Linked DNA regions of Homo sapiens. The protein of the gene in region 1 purifies or fractionates together with the protein of each later gene. This does not show direct contact. Each region holds a gene or a part of one and is shown in the gene's direction. Other genes may lie near its edges.

Region 1 (3,500 bases):
TGATGAATGCCATTTCCAAAAGGGTTGGGTAGGAGTGCCTGACATGGTACTTTCCCCTTGTCTAGGGTTATCAGGAAAGGTTTCCTATAGGAAGTGACACTTCAAGAGACTTGGAGGGTAAACGGAAGTAGTAATTCAGGATGGCAGTGGGAGATGCTTATAGTGGGACAAAGGTTTCTGGCAGAGGGAACTTCATGTTCAAAGTTCAAAGGGAAGAGTGGTGAACCTGAGGATTTGAAAGGAAGTTAGAGACAGAGCAAGAGGAGAAAGACTAGAATGAAGAATGAGGCTGGAGAGGTGGGCAGAGGCTAGAGAGTAGGCAGTTCTTTGAGCTACAGGTGTATTTTGGTCTTTATCCTAAGGCTAATGAGAACCTAGCCTGGCTTTAAAAAACTAGATGAATGGCATATGTAGGATGATATTAAAATATTATCCTGGCTGTTAAGTAGAGGAGATTGAAGGAAAGACTTGGTCAGAGTGAATGTGTAGAGACCAAGTAGCAAATAATTTTTGTCGTCTGTATGAGGGATGATGGTGCTTAGATCTAGGGTGGTGACAGAGGGTTTAGAGAGACACTAAGTTTTTTGTTTTTTTTTTTTGAGACAGAGTTTTGCTCTTGTTGCCCTTGCTGGAGTACAATGGCGCAATCTCGGCTCATTGCAACCTCCGCCTCCCAGGTTCAAGCAGTTCTCCTGCCTCAGCCTCCCTATTGTCTGGGATTACAGGTGCCCGCCACCATGCTCAGCTAACGTTTGTATTTTTTTTTTTTTTTTTGAGACAGAGTCTCACTCTGTCGCCCAGGCTGAAGTGCAGTGGCATGATCACAGCTCACTGCAGCCTCCATCTCTGGATTCAAGCGATTCTCCTGCCTCAGCCTCCCAAGTAGTTGAGATTACAGGCACCCACCACTCCCAGCTAATTTTTATATATTTAGTAGAGATAGGGTCTCACCATGCTGGCCAGGCTGATCTCTCAAACTCCTGACCTCAAATGGTCCACCCGCCTCAGCCTCCCAAAGTGCTGGGACTACAGGCGTGAGCCACCGCACCTGGCAACTTTTGTATTTTTAGTAGAGATGGGGTTTCACCATGTTGGCCAGGCTGGTCTCGAACTCCTGACCTCAGGTGATCCACCTGCCTCTGCCTCCCAAAGTTCTGGGATTACAAGCATGAGCCACCATGCCCGGCCGACACTAACTTTGAAAATTGTAATTGATAAGATTTGTTGATTGATTGGATGGGGGGATAGGGAGAAAAGGGAGTCATGAAATGACTTGAGTTTTTTTCTTGAGCAACTGGGGATGACGTTTTCAGAGAAAGAGAACACTGAATGGGAACCAGGTCTTTTTGTTTTCCGAAGGGAGGACCTTTGGACATGCTGAGTTTGAGGTTCCTGGAAGACATCTAAGATCTTTCACTCTTGCTGTCCATGTGTAGGATGTGGCATGATGGAGTAGAAGAGAGCTCTGGACGAGGCTTTCTCACACTGGACACTGCTTATTTATTAGCTGTATGATGTTGGACATATCACATTTTTTTTTCTGAGCTTTAGTTTCCTCATCTGTACAATGTATTTATTCCAATAGTTTATACTTACCCCAGCATGGAAAACAACAGTATACTCAGTTTACTTATTTGTTATAACAGTTTTCCATGCACCATGCTAGGAAAACAACATTGAATAAGATACTGTTTACTTCGGAGGAATTCACTCAGGTGAGGGAGACAAACGTAAATAATCACGTACAAAGAGGTACTTTGGCAATACTAGGCTAGGGGGTAGGGGTGATGGGTGCGGGAGGCATCCACACCTTTGATCCTAGACATGAAGGCAAGCAAAAGCGCTCCAGACTGTGTTTCCAGGCACCCAACAGAATGCCTCACACAAATTAGGGACTCTAAATGTTGGTAGAGTGAGTGAATTAACCTAAGTCACTAAGGGCCTATTCAAAAGCAGGAAATATCAACACATTGGAAGAGGACTATTAGTAATAATACAGATGCCAAATGTAAAATGCTTTTAAGAGACCCATTAAAATGTATTCTAGGCCAGGCACAGTGGCTCACGCCTGTAATCCCCACACTTTGGGTGGCTGAGGTGGGTGGATCACCTGAGGTCAGGAGTTCAAGGCCAGCGTGGCCAACATGGTGAAACCCCGTCTCTACTAAAAATACAAAATTAGGCGGGGGTGTAGTGGTGCATGCCTGTAGTCCCAGCTACTCAGGAGGCTGAGGCAGGAGAATCACTTCAACCCAGGAGGCGGAAGCTGCTGTGAGCCGAGATTGTGCCATGGCACTCTACTCTGGGCCACAGAGTGAGACTCTGTCTCAAAACAAAAAAAAGTATTCTTGACACTTTCAGCTTTTGAGATATTTTGTGATCACTTTTAGGGAAATTCAGAAATATTTCAGATCTGGTTTCTTTTTGGGCTGAACTTCCTTTATTCAAGTCAGTTTCTCAAAAAAATCATTCTAATTGCACAGAGTTCCCTGAATCAATGGGTCTCAGAGTTTTGAATTATATAGATTAGTAAAATTACAAAAAATAAAATTGAATGTACTGTGAACAATAGTTATTCTTCTGTAGTAAATTGAAAATGCCTCCTCACTTTTATCTCATAGAAAATATATTTAGCTTTATGAAAAATTCTCTACATTGGGTTTTCTCATTTTGTTGCAGAAATGAAACATCAGAATAGTGTAATAATTTAGGGAACCATTGCCCTATTTTCTTGGCTGTGGTGGAAATGTGATCCATCTCCAAATAAGGGCATTTCCAAGTATGGAGGAATTTAATATGGACCACAGTTAATTTATTTTTAGTTTTTTCCTTATAGGAAGCCAACTTTTGAGAACTACGTAGGCCTCCTCAAGATTAGCCTAACGTAGCAGTTCTTAATTCATGCCTGAAAGGTCCTCAGGAAGACCATGAACCTTTGAGATCATGTTAAATTGTATACGTATACATATTTATGTGCTGGAGTTCATACGTACATGCACATATTTTTGTATCATACGCGTGTGTCCTTGAGCAAATTACTTAATCTCTTTGAGCCTCTGTTTCTTTGTAAGGTTGTTGGGAGGTTCACATGATGAGATCATGTGTTTTAAATGTCTGACACTATGCTTGGTATAGCTGGTGCTCATGGTAGCTGTTTTTAACATTATTTATCCTTTTAAACATTTTATTTATTGGGTGGTGCTTGTTTAGTATCCACAGTGACAAAATGAGGAAAAAGATAATTTAGTGTAACTACACAACCTGATTCAATGGGAAGTACACAACATCACTGATGTAGAATTTTTGCCAGAAATGCTTAACTTAAATCTAACCATGGGGCTGGGCATAGTAGCTCACATCTGGAATCCTAGCACTTTGGGAGGCCACGGCAGGAAGATTACTTGAGCCCAGGAGTTCAAGACCACCCTGGGCAACATAGGGAGACTCTGTCTTCTCCTTTCCTTTCCTTTCCATTCCTTTCCTTTTCTCTCTTTCCTTTC
Region 2 (4,042 bases), on another chromosome or scaffold:
AGGGCCTCTGGGGGAGCCCGAGGACACAGAGCTGACTTAAAGGGCCAGCTGTGATCACAGCACCACCGCAGAGAGAGGAGGAGGATGCCAGGGGGCTGGGTAGACCGTCAGACCTGGAAGACCATTGTTCCACGGGACAGACTGCTGAGGGCCAGTCCTGCAGGTACTTTGCTCTTCCACAGGTCAAAGCCGTCTCACTGGCTGTCTTCTCTTTGGGGTCTCTGGGGCTCTGGCCAGTGATCAGGAGAAAGACCAGCCCTGAGGGGCAGGGCAAAGGTTGGCCAGGGTCCAGAAGGGTTAGACATCACAGTCCTCCACTGCCCACCTTCCCAGGAAAGCACCCTCAGGCTGTGGGCCTTCCCCAGAGGGGCAGTTTCTACAGGGTCTACGCAGTGGATTCTAAAGGTGATAAAGGCTGGGTGCAGTGGCTCGCGCCTGTAATCCCAGCACTTTGGGAGGCCAAAGTGGGAGGATTGCTTGAGTCCAGAGGTTCAAGACCAGCCTGAGCAAAATAGTGAAACCTTATCTCTACTAAAAAAAAAAAAAAAAAAAAAAAAAAAAATTAGCTGAACGTACGCCTGTGGTCCCGGGTACTCAGGGGGCTGAGGCAGGAAGATGAATTGAGCCCAGAAGGTTGAGACTGCTGTGAACCATGATCGCACCACTGCACTCCAGCCTGGGCGACAGACCAAGACCCTGTCTCAAAAAAAATAATTTAAAAAGCTGATAAGGGCGATCCACAAACCTGCACCAAGACTCTCAACTTGGAGCTGGGCTGGTGGTCCCTGAGTTCTGTCCTGCCGGACAGTAGAGTCCCCCTAGGTAGGGAACGTGGCCCCACACGGCGGCCGGGTGACCGACCACTGCTTACCAGGAGGGGAGACTGGCAGGGGGGGCTCAAGGAACATCTGGTGGGTGTCCCCTTCACAAGACTCGGCCTGCAGAGTTCGTGCAGGGAGTTCGCACATAGGAGAGCACCGGTCCGGGAGTGCCAGGCTCGTGCCCGGCCGGGGAGAGGAGTGGGAGACTAAGTCGCAGGGCAAGGGCAACTGCATAGTCGGGGACCTCTAGGGAATCCTGAGTCCCGGCATTCTGGGCTGGGGTGGAGCCCACTACAGCCCCGCCCCTATCTCCTCCTTTATGGCCCCGCCCAGCGGGTATCCCCCGCCCCCGCTGGCCGATCGGCGATCGATCGCAATGTCTGCGCTCTCCGCGTTCTTCCAGCGCTGTCTTTTTAGTACCACATGCGCAGGCAGGTGATGGCGGCGCTGGTCGTATCCGGGGCAGCGGAGCAGGGCGGCCGAGACGGCCCTGGCAGAGGTGGGTGCTGGAACGCTGCGCCCTCCAGACCTCGCATCTCGGGGCGGGGCCCCCAAGTTAGGGACAGGACCAACCCCCTTTAACGGCGGCGGCGCCTTTCTCCGCTAGATCCCGCTGTTAGTCGCCTTGGGCCGCTGTCACCAGCTCGGGGTCGCTGTCAGCCGGAGCCCAGGGGTACCAGTCTTTTGCAGCTTTAGGGCACGACCGAGAGCAGCCCTTAATCCTCCAATCGGAAACTACAGCCTTGTCTTGGCGGGTAGACGGATAAAATGGACTCGACGGGGAGGGAAAGGGCCAGGCCAGATGCAGCGGGCATTTTACGAGTGCGCCCTCAGGGAATGCTTTCAGGGAAGAGGCAAAAGGTTTCATTCGCCAGGCATTAACTGAGCGCCCACCGAATGCCAGGCCTGCGCTGGGTGCAGGTACTAGAATCAGAGATCTCAGTCTACTGGGGGAATGTTAATGTAAACATATCATAGCCACGTGATAAAGGAGGAGGTGCCTACTGGTCCCTGGGACACATTGAAGGGCTAATGTTAGCAGTTCCTTACACGCCAGCGACCACTAGGGACCTGTCAGAGGAGGATCTGTAATGGGCCTAGGAAGCCTAGGCTGATTGTCCAAGGCTTTTGAAACAACTGGCCAAAAACCATAGCAGTGGTAACGTTCAAATCTGATCTCAGGGCCCCAGCCTCCGCTGGACCATCCCCACCGCCGCCCACACAGTGGGTGAAGCCTCATGTCTGGGCGGGTCCCTCCTATCATAGTGTGGGGCCCTAGCAGAAGTTGTGGCACATAGCACAGTCTCAATACATATTCGTTGAATAAGTTAATTTCTTGCCTTTTCATATCCTCAGACTCTGTGGCTCCTGAAGAGATAACGGGGTTGAACTAAGCTTAATTGTCGGGGCAGGGCATAGTGGCTTACACCTTTAGTCTGAGCACTTTGGGAGGCTAAGGAGGATTGTGTGAGCCCAGGAATTCCACACCAGTCTGGGAAACATAGGGGGACCCTGTATGCACAAAAAAATAAAAAATAGCCGTGCGTGGCCGGGCACGGTGGCTTACACCTGTAATCCCAGCACTCTGGGAGGCTGAGGCGGGCGGATTACCTGAGGTCAGGAGTTTGAGACCAGCCTGGCCAACATGGTGGAAACCCTGTCTCTACTAAAAATACAAAAATTAGCCGCGTGTGGTAGCACACGCCTGTAATCCCAGCTACTCGGGAGGCTGAGGCAGGAGAATTGCTTGAGTCCGAGAGGCTGAGGTTGCAGTGAGCCGAGATTGCACCACTGCACTCCAGCCTGGCCAACAGACAGAGTGAGACTCTGTCTCAAAAAAAAAAAAAAAAAAAAAAATTAGCCCTGCGTCTTGGCACATGCCTGTGGTCCTAGCTACTGGGGAGGCTGAGGTGGGAGGATTATCGTTTGAGCCCAGGACGTCGAGGCCGCAGTGGACCATGATTGCACCCCTGCACTCCAGCCTGGGTGATGGAGTGAGACCCTGCCTTAAAAAATAATAAGATGAATTGTTTATTCAGCTTATTATTTTTTATCCTACTTAGGAGTAGGATGAGACCAGAGTAAGAGTTGCAGTTTGCTAAGGGCTACGGTTTCCCCTTTACTCCAGGAGTTGTAATTATGTGTATACCTGTCTTTTCCCCCACTAGACTGCTGGTCTCTAAGGGACAAGGTCACTTTTCTGTCCTTACTGGTACGTCCACCACCCTGACTCAAGTGTTCTTTCCATCCTTCCTGGTTTAAGAGTAAGGAGGAGCAATGGGACAGCTAAGTCAGTTAAATGTATGATGTTTATTTCCCTTTTAAATGAGGAGAGGTAAGCGTGAAAGAACGAACAGTGTGGCCACAGTCAGTGGGGTTCTGAGTCAGGAGGGCAGTCTTTTAAGTTAGTATTCATGTTTAACGGTTTGCTTATAGACCTCATATCTAGAAGCTCAAAACTTCAAGGTGTCCTCAGGAGGTGGGAGAGGGGGGACATTCTCCCAGGCTGGCTGGGCTGGCTAGACTGACTCTTAGGTTTTCCGCAGGGCTGTTCTCTATCAGGGAGCAGTATATGGACTCAGACTCATTCTTTGCCCCTTAGCCCCTGGTGTCACCTCTGTTCTCCTGAGGAAGAAGGTGAGCCATATTCTATTCATGGGCTCAAGTCTTCGATTCCCAGTGATTTCACAACATGGAAATTATACCGGTTACCTTCTGGCTTAATGAATTGTCTCTACCTTCAGGATGAATTCAGTGAGAACGAAAGCTGGGCCAACCCCCTTGGTGTCTGGATCTGGCCCTTAAACTTGGTGGAGTTAACAGCTTAGCTGGGTCTTGTTACCAAACTCAACTTGGGTCTTCCCATCCACACAAAGCAAAAGCCAAACACTGACATGGAGATTTGCAGGGAGAGAACAAGCATTTATTGTAAGGCACCAAGCAGGGAGACTGGGCAGCTAAAGCTTAAGACCTAAACTTCCTGATGGCTTACAAGCAAAGGGTTTTTATTTTATTTATTTATTTATTTTTGAGATGGTGTCTCGCTCTGTTGCCCAGGCTGGAGTGCAGCGGCGTGATCTCGGCTCACTGCAAGCTCCGCCTCCCGGGTTCACCCCATTCTCCTGCCTTAGCTGGGACTACAGGTGCCTGCCACCAGGCCCGGCTAATTTTTTGTATTTTTAGTAGAGAGTAGTATTTCCCCGTGTTAGCCAGGATGGTCT
Region 3 (3,500 bases), on another chromosome or scaffold:
GCCTGTGGGTCATTTCCTCATGGAGCCTGTGGGCAGCTGGGGTGACGCGGTGCGAAGCCAGCCGATGACATCTTGGTTTGTGTGTCTCAGTGTTTGTTCTGTGGTTTTTCGGTGCTATCTCAATGCATCTGTGGTGTGTAATCATTTCCCCCCATTTGGCAATGCCCATGCCCATTTCTTGGCACTGTCTGTAACAGCAAAGCTCCTCCCCCATGAACACACTACAGGGTGGCACTGGTCTCCGGGTGTCCATGACTGTGGACAGTGCTTTAGATCATCCTCAGCAGGTGCTTTGGGGCAACGTGCACTTACTCTGTTAAACTCCATCCCTGGGACTTGCTGTCTCCAGGGTTTATTTCATGTGTGGGGCTTGCTGTCTCCAGGGTTTATTTCATGTGTGGGGCTTGCTGCCTCCAGGGTTTATTTCATGTGTGGGGCTTGCTGTCTCCAGGGTTTATTTCATGTGTGGGACTTGCTGTCTCCAGGGTTTATTTCATGTATGGGGCTTGCTGTCTCCAGGGTTTATTTCATGTGTGGGGCTTGCTGTCTCCAGGGTTTATTTCATGTATGGGGCTTGCTGTCTCCAGGGTTTATTTCATGTATGGGGCTTGCTGTCTCCAGGGTTTATTTCATGTGTGGGACTTGCTGTCTCCAGGGTTTATTTCATGTGTGGGGCTTGCTGCCTCCAGGGTTTATTTCATGTGTGGGGCTTGCTGTCTCCAGGGTTTATTTCATGTGTGGGGCTTGCTGTCTCCAGGGTTTATTTCATGTACATGGGCAGATTCCTTTTCCCAGAGCACGGAACTTTGGTTTCTCCAAACCCCTAGCCACTGGGTGTGCTCTAGGCTTTGGGGCTTTGCAAAGGTGCAGGCTGGTTGGGAGGGAGGTATCCTTGGGCACACGTCTGGGGGATAATGGGCCGAGGGTGGGGAGATGCAGGCAGAGGGTGGAAGGCAGTGGGGGCAGTGCGGTCGAGGAACCCTGAGCTGGACCCTCTGTGAGCATGGTGTGAACGGGAAGGATGGGAGCCGGGCGTGTAGGACGTTCTGTCCTTTGAGGGAAGCCTTGTAGGACGTCAGAATCGGGGCCTCCACTTCCGTCTCCCTGTGCACAGCTTTCGGATTGGCCTCTGTCCTTCCTCAGAATCCCTCACATGCGTGGGCTGGGGAGGAGCCCCCGCTGAGGCTGCAGGCAGGGCAGGGTAATCAGGATTTGGAGTCAGGCACTGGTCCTGCGGCGTGTCCTTGGGGATGGTGGCGTAGGGGTGGGGACAGAGCCCCAACGTCCCTCCTGTCCTCATCCCAGGCACTGCCACGAGAGGAACCTGGCCGTGAACCCACAGGGGGGCAACACAGGCATGGTGGGTGGCAGCGTCCCCGTCTTTGACGAGATCATCCTCTCCACTGCCCGCATGAACCGGGTCCTCAGCTTCCACAGCGTGTCTGGTAAGCCTGTGCCACCCGTCGGGGCCCAGGAGTCCCTCCTGGTGCTGGTGGAGTTCTTCCTTGCCAGCGTCTGCAACTGTGGGGTGCTTGGGTGGGTGAATGAGTTAGGGCCGGCGCTGGGGAAAGAACCAGCGTCTGTAGCCTGGCCGCCTAGCCCCACCTCGCCCGGCCCCTCCAGACATGCGTGCTGGTGAGGGCTTGTCATTCTGGTCCCTTCCGACTCCATCCCGCTCTAGAGGTGTGTGAGGTGCAGAGTGGCATGTGTGAGGGGATCCTGACCCAGGGTGCCAGGGCGTGGCAGGCATGAGGGGATCCTGACCCAGGGCGCCAGGGCGTGGCAGGCGTGAGGGGATCCTGACCCAGGGCGCCAGGGCGTGGCAGGCGTGAGGGGATCCTGACCCAGGGCGCCAGAGCGTGGCAGGCATGAGGGGATCCTGACCCAGGGCGCCAGGGCGTGGCAGGCGTGAGGGGATCCTGACCCAGGGCGCCAGGGCGTGGCAGGCGTGAGGGGATCCTGACCCAGGGTGCCAGGGCGTGGCAGGCATGAGGGGATCCTGACCCAGGGCGCCAGGGTCCTGCTCTGGAGCTGGGCCTCTCCCCGCAAGGCCGGGCTCCAGGCCCCGGTCACTCTGTGGTCGGGCGCCTGCACTGTTGGGTGTTGAGCAGCATCCTTGGCCTCCGCCTACAAGGTGCCCATGGCACCCCCAACCCAGGCATTGTCCCACATGCCCAGGGCAGGATCAGCCCCAGCTGAGAATCTTCCCTCTTCTACTCCTTTCCACGAGTGTGTGTGGGGGTGGGAAGTTTTTTCCTCTCTTTTCATGTTACTCATTTTTTTTTTGTGTCACCATAATTATAAAGGTCCTGTGAGGCCCAGATGTTTTCGTCCTTGGGCCAGCGATGTGGGGGTGCCTCTTCTCCTCAGCCCTGGCGCTGAGGCTGATGTTCCTTCTGGGTGGCTTGCCTGTGCAAGATGGGGGTTGGGACTCACCAGCCCGGGGGCCCACTGGAAGCCAAGTGCTGCGGCAGCCTGGTCACTCTCTGCAGGAATTCTGGTTTGCCAGGCGGGCTGCGTCCTGGAGGAGCTGAGCCGGTATGTGGAGGAACGGGACTTCATCATGCCGCTGGACTTAGGAGCCAAGGGCAGCTGCCACATCGGGGGAAACGTGGCAACCAACGCTGGAGGCCTGCGGTTTCTTCGATATGGCTCACTGCATGGGACTGTCCTGGGCCTGGAAGTGGTGAGCTGGGGCAGCTGCTTGGTGCAGAGGTCGCCACGGGGTGTCCTCTCACGGCTCTCATGGGCCCACGTGGTGGCACAGGTGCATGGGGCCCCTCGGGGTGGGAGGTCTTGGTTCCTGGCCCTGGGCCCCTCAAGGATGTGTGGGCTACATACACCCCCATCCTGAGGGAGGCCTGGCCCTGCCCTGTCCTCCCACGAGAGGGTGATTTTGTGTCCACTGCCTCGGGGCCACACAGAGAGGATGCAGTTACAGGGGACACCGCCCCGGCAGTGGTGGGCTTCTGGGAGCCGGGTGTGAAGGAAGGCTCATCCAGGGTCAGCTTCGTGACCTTCTGCTGCCCACTGTTCCTCCAGGGCCCCTCTGTTTACCCGCACCCTCACCAGCCGAGTGTCACAGGCAGAGCTCTCTGTCCTGTTTACCCAAGTGGACGAAGCAAACACAAAACCATGCTTTGGTGCCATCCAGTAAATTATGACGCTTCAGTAGCTTTTTTTTCTGGCCAGCCACTGATTATCTTTATTGTAAATTACTTTTTTGCACTCATGAGCTGTGTAGGCCTCCGACTCACAGTACCAGCACACAGGACTCGGAGAGGCCCACAGCTCGGGAGCTTTGATGCCTTATGGCTGGTGGGTCCAGAGGTGGCTGGGTCCTGGGCTGGGCTCACGCCCTACTCCCAGGGAGCCTCCCCACTGCCCCCGACCCCGGGCGTGCCCCCTGGGCAGTGAGCTGCTGTGTGTGGAGGGTGTCACTCGTACAGGAGGAAAGTCCATCCTTCAGCCTCTTGGCATGACCTCAGGCTGCTGCAGAA
Region 4 (3,500 bases), on another chromosome or scaffold:
TCACTTCTACAAAACAAAATTAAAAAACATTAACTGGGTGGAGACCAGCCTGAGCAACATAGGGAGACCTCACTTCTACCAAAATAAAATAAAATAAAATAAAATAAAAAGACATTAGCTGGGCTTGGTGGTCTGTGCCTGTAGTCCCAGCTACTTGTGAGGGTGAGGCAGGAGGATCGCTTGGGCTCAGGAGGTCAAGGCTGCAGTGAGCCACGATCGCACCACTGCACTCCATCCTGAGCAAGAGTGAGACTTTGTCTCTTAAGAAAAAACCAAAATAAAACTTAAAATGGACTTAAATTTAGTTTTTTAAAGAGGCTAGGGAAATAGAAGTGGGGAAAGAAAGGGAGTAAGAATTAGGGATGGAAAAGAAAAGAGAATCAGATAAAGGATTATGCAGGCTGAGAAAGACATAGTTTTACTTGGTTTTCTTGAAAGAGCATTGTCTCCCTAAGTACTCCTTATTGTATCAATTAGAGAATCTGTGCATCTCCCAGTGGGCTCTGAGACTAGGGCATGTGCAGCAGGTGCTTCTCCAGAAAGACTGGTACTGCCCATATGCCTTCCCCATGCGGCGCTGGACTGGATGAGGAGGGCTCCTAAAGGGCACACAGAGAAGGACGGTGCTGTGTGCCGTGGGCCTCTTCCATGCTCAGCCTCTCAGAAGTGGACAGTGGAGTTGTCCACAAGCTACTTAGGCCTGACATCACAGCAGACTGAATGTAGAAGCTGATAGAAGATCCAGCTGACTTGTATTAACTCTGATATTAAAGAAATGTGTGAACATGTCAAATAATGCCATTCCTCCAGTACTTTATTTTTGTTTTGGAAAACAATTATTTTTCATAAAACTGTTAACACATGACAAGCTTATTATTTTATTTTTTATTTTTATTTTTTTGAGTCAGTCTCACTCTGTCGCCCAGGCTGGAGTGCAATGGCGTGATTTCAGCTCACTGAAACTTCCATTTCCCAGGTTCAAGCGATTCTCTTGCCTCAGCCTCCCGAGTAGCTGGGGCTACAGGTGTGTTTTATCATGCCTGGCCAATTTTTGTATTTTTAGTAGAGTCAGGGTTTCACCATGTTGGCCAGGCTGGTCTTGAACTCCTGACCTCAAGTGATCCACCCACCTTGGCTTCCCAAAGTGCTGGGATTACTGGCATGAGCCACTGCGTCTGGCCTATTTTAAGAGGAATTAATACATAAATACTTAAATCCTTTTCTCAGTTTTATTTTCCAATATGGTAAATATCTACAGGTGTAACCCACATCACAAAAAAAGCTCTTTGTGATCCTAAGTCATTTTTAAGAGCATCAAGGAGTTTTTAGACCAAAAGTTTAAGGAGCACTGAGTTAATGGATAAAGATGATAGAGATGAATACTGTGGCACACCTTCTAAGGCATGTGGCATAGCTGGAGATTATTAGGTTGTTACGTCATGAGAGAAGAACGGACTGTGTAGCGAGTTAATATGGCTGTTTTTGAGGAAGAGGGAGGACTACAACCTCAAAAGGAGCAGATGCCTATGGGGTGCATGGTCTGGAAAGGCATTCTGGTCTTGCTTTGGTGCTATTACTGTGAAATATTTTCAATCCAGGGCACTTTCTGTTATACATCTCTGTAGCTCCAGAACCTGGCGCAGTCTGCCACACAGTTTGTGCAGGAATGCCGGCCACGTGAATGGATGAACGCAGAGGCTGGCCTGTTTTACGTGTGCAGTCAGCCCTGCAGGGAAACCTTGAGTGTGGTGAGAGTGTTCTGCATTGCCTGCCTGGACATGGGCATGGGAAAGACAGGTGGCAAGTTCCCATTTGCAAAAAACTAGTGATCTTTAGGTTTGATCTTTGTTTTGGGAGAAAAATTGGCATTTCCAAATAATCCACCTGTTTAAATCATTGTTAGTTACTGCAGTTTGAGCTAATGAAGGGTCACTGACTTGACTAATGATGCTGGTTTTTGTTTTTTGTTTTCTGGTTTTTGTTTTTTGTTTTCTTAATGCCCAGCTGCCCTGGAAGGATTGTGTTCAGCTTCTGTCATCTATCACTATCCTGGTGGAACTGGTGGGAAGAGTGGAGCTCGGAGGTTCCAGGGCAGCACCCTTCCTGCTGAAGCAGCCAATAGACACCGGCCAGGTGAGCTCTGCCCTTTTTCCGGCCTCTGCTCACTTGCAGTCTTTAAATAAAGCAGACTCATTTGTTACTTTTTCCTTTGAGTTAGGACTAATATTTAAATAAACTGTAAAATCTGTTGAGTCAGTAATTTTTTTTTTTTTTTGAGACAGAGTCTTGCACTGTTGCCCGGGCTGGAGTGCAGTGGCGCAATCTCGGCTCACCACAGCCTCCACCTCCCAGGTTCAAGCAATTCTCCTCCCTCAGCCTCCTGACTAGTTGGGATTACAGGCGCCCGCCACCACACATGGCTAATTTTTTGTATTTTTAATAGAGGCGGGGTTTCACTATGTTGGCCAGGCTGGTCTCGAATGCTTGACCTCGTGATCCACCCGCCTCGGCCTCCCAAAGTGCTGGGATTACAGGCGTGAGCCACCATGCCCTGCCCAGAAATCTTGTATGAGACATTTTGTTCTGATTTTATTGAATACTTTCAATCTTACTGAATACCACTAATGGGTTAGAATGATTGGTTGATTTCTGGAATACTTGTGTAAAATTTCCTGGTAGAACAGACTTGAGGTTCTGTGTCTAAGTCTTTTTTATAATTTTATGTATTAGGAGAAGCTAGTCCCAGAGGTCAATTTTAATAAGCTGATTCAGGGCCTGGGAGCAGTTTCTTATTTTATTGGCTGATGACATTCTCTCAATGAGTTGTTTGATTTGCTTATGCTTGGTAGAACCAATGAAGAGTGAGAAAACTTCTTGGGTAGAGCAGACCCACGAATGCTGAATGAACATGAACGTTTTGGTCCTTGATGAATGAACCTGCCTTTAATGGCTCAGGATTTAGTCATCATGTTGCATAGGTCACAAAGAAGGAAGCAACAAAATAATGAAAGCAGGGATTTATTGAAAACGAAAGTACACTCCACAGTGTGGGAGTGGGCCGAGCAGCGGGCTCAAGGGCACGGATACAGAATCTTCTTGGGTCTAAATACCCACTAGAAGTTTCCCATTGGCCACTTCATGCTCACCTCTTGTAAATGAAGTGGTAGCCTGCAGTTAGTCTGATTGGTTGCGGAAAGCAGCCACTCAGAGGCTAAGGTGAAGTTACAAAGTTATGCTTCTATGCAAATGAAAAGTAGACAAAGTTATACTTCTCTGCAAACTAAGACTCCACCAGCAATCAGTCTGAGTGGTTCCGGACAGCCAGTTTCCCACCTGCCATGCAGAAAAGGTCAAAGGGAGCAGCCTCTGGTCCTTTTGTTACTTAGTCATGGAAAGTTAGGGTTTTCCTTTCAATGTAGTTGTAGGAAGTCTGTGTGAAACAACCTTAAGTTCTTTGCCTCTAGATCCTATTCTTCTGCCTCAGGCTTATCTTTTTTGTG

The links. The genes of interacting proteins can lie anywhere in the genome.
Region 2: the proteins of RAB30 (region 1) and DPH1 purify together in Homo sapiens (affinity purification with mass spectrometry; 2 studies listed by BioGRID and IntAct, with this or other methods). This does not show direct contact.
Region 3: the proteins of RAB30 (region 1) and D2HGDH purify together in Homo sapiens (affinity purification with mass spectrometry; 2 studies listed by BioGRID and IntAct, with this or other methods). This does not show direct contact.
Region 4: the proteins of RAB30 (region 1) and TRAPPC9 purify together in Homo sapiens (affinity purification with mass spectrometry; 2 studies listed by BioGRID and IntAct, with this or other methods). This does not show direct contact.

Annotation. Positions count from the first base shown.
Region 1 is NC_000011.10:83,065,398-83,068,897, reverse strand, and holds part of RAB30 (ras-related protein Rab-30), read left to right. Parts: intron 1-3,500. UniProt on the Homo sapiens protein: The small GTPases Rab are key regulators of intracellular membrane trafficking, from the formation of transport vesicles to their fusion with membranes.
Region 2 is NC_000017.11:2,028,911-2,032,952, forward strand, and holds the start of DPH1 (2-(3-amino-3-carboxypropyl)histidine synthase subunit 1), read left to right. Parts: upstream 1-1,242; 5' UTR 1,243-1,244; coding exon of another isoform or gene 1,245-1,259; coding exon 1,260-1,320; intron 1,321-4,042. UniProt on the Homo sapiens protein: Catalyzes the first step of diphthamide biosynthesis, a post-translational modification of histidine which occurs in elongation factor 2.
Region 3 is NC_000002.12:241,741,130-241,744,629, forward strand, and holds part of D2HGDH (D-2-hydroxyglutarate dehydrogenase, mitochondrial isoform 1 precursor), read left to right. Parts: intron 1-1,305; coding exon 1,306-1,445; intron 1,446-2,492; coding exon 2,493-2,686; intron 2,687-3,500.
Region 4 is NC_000008.11:140,433,745-140,437,244, reverse strand, and holds part of TRAPPC9 (trafficking protein particle complex subunit 9), read left to right. Parts: intron 1-2,004; coding exon 2,005-2,133; intron 2,134-3,500. UniProt on the Homo sapiens protein: Functions as an activator of NF-kappa-B through increased phosphorylation of the IKK complex. May function in neuronal cells differentiation. May play a role in vesicular transport from endoplasmic reticulum to Golgi.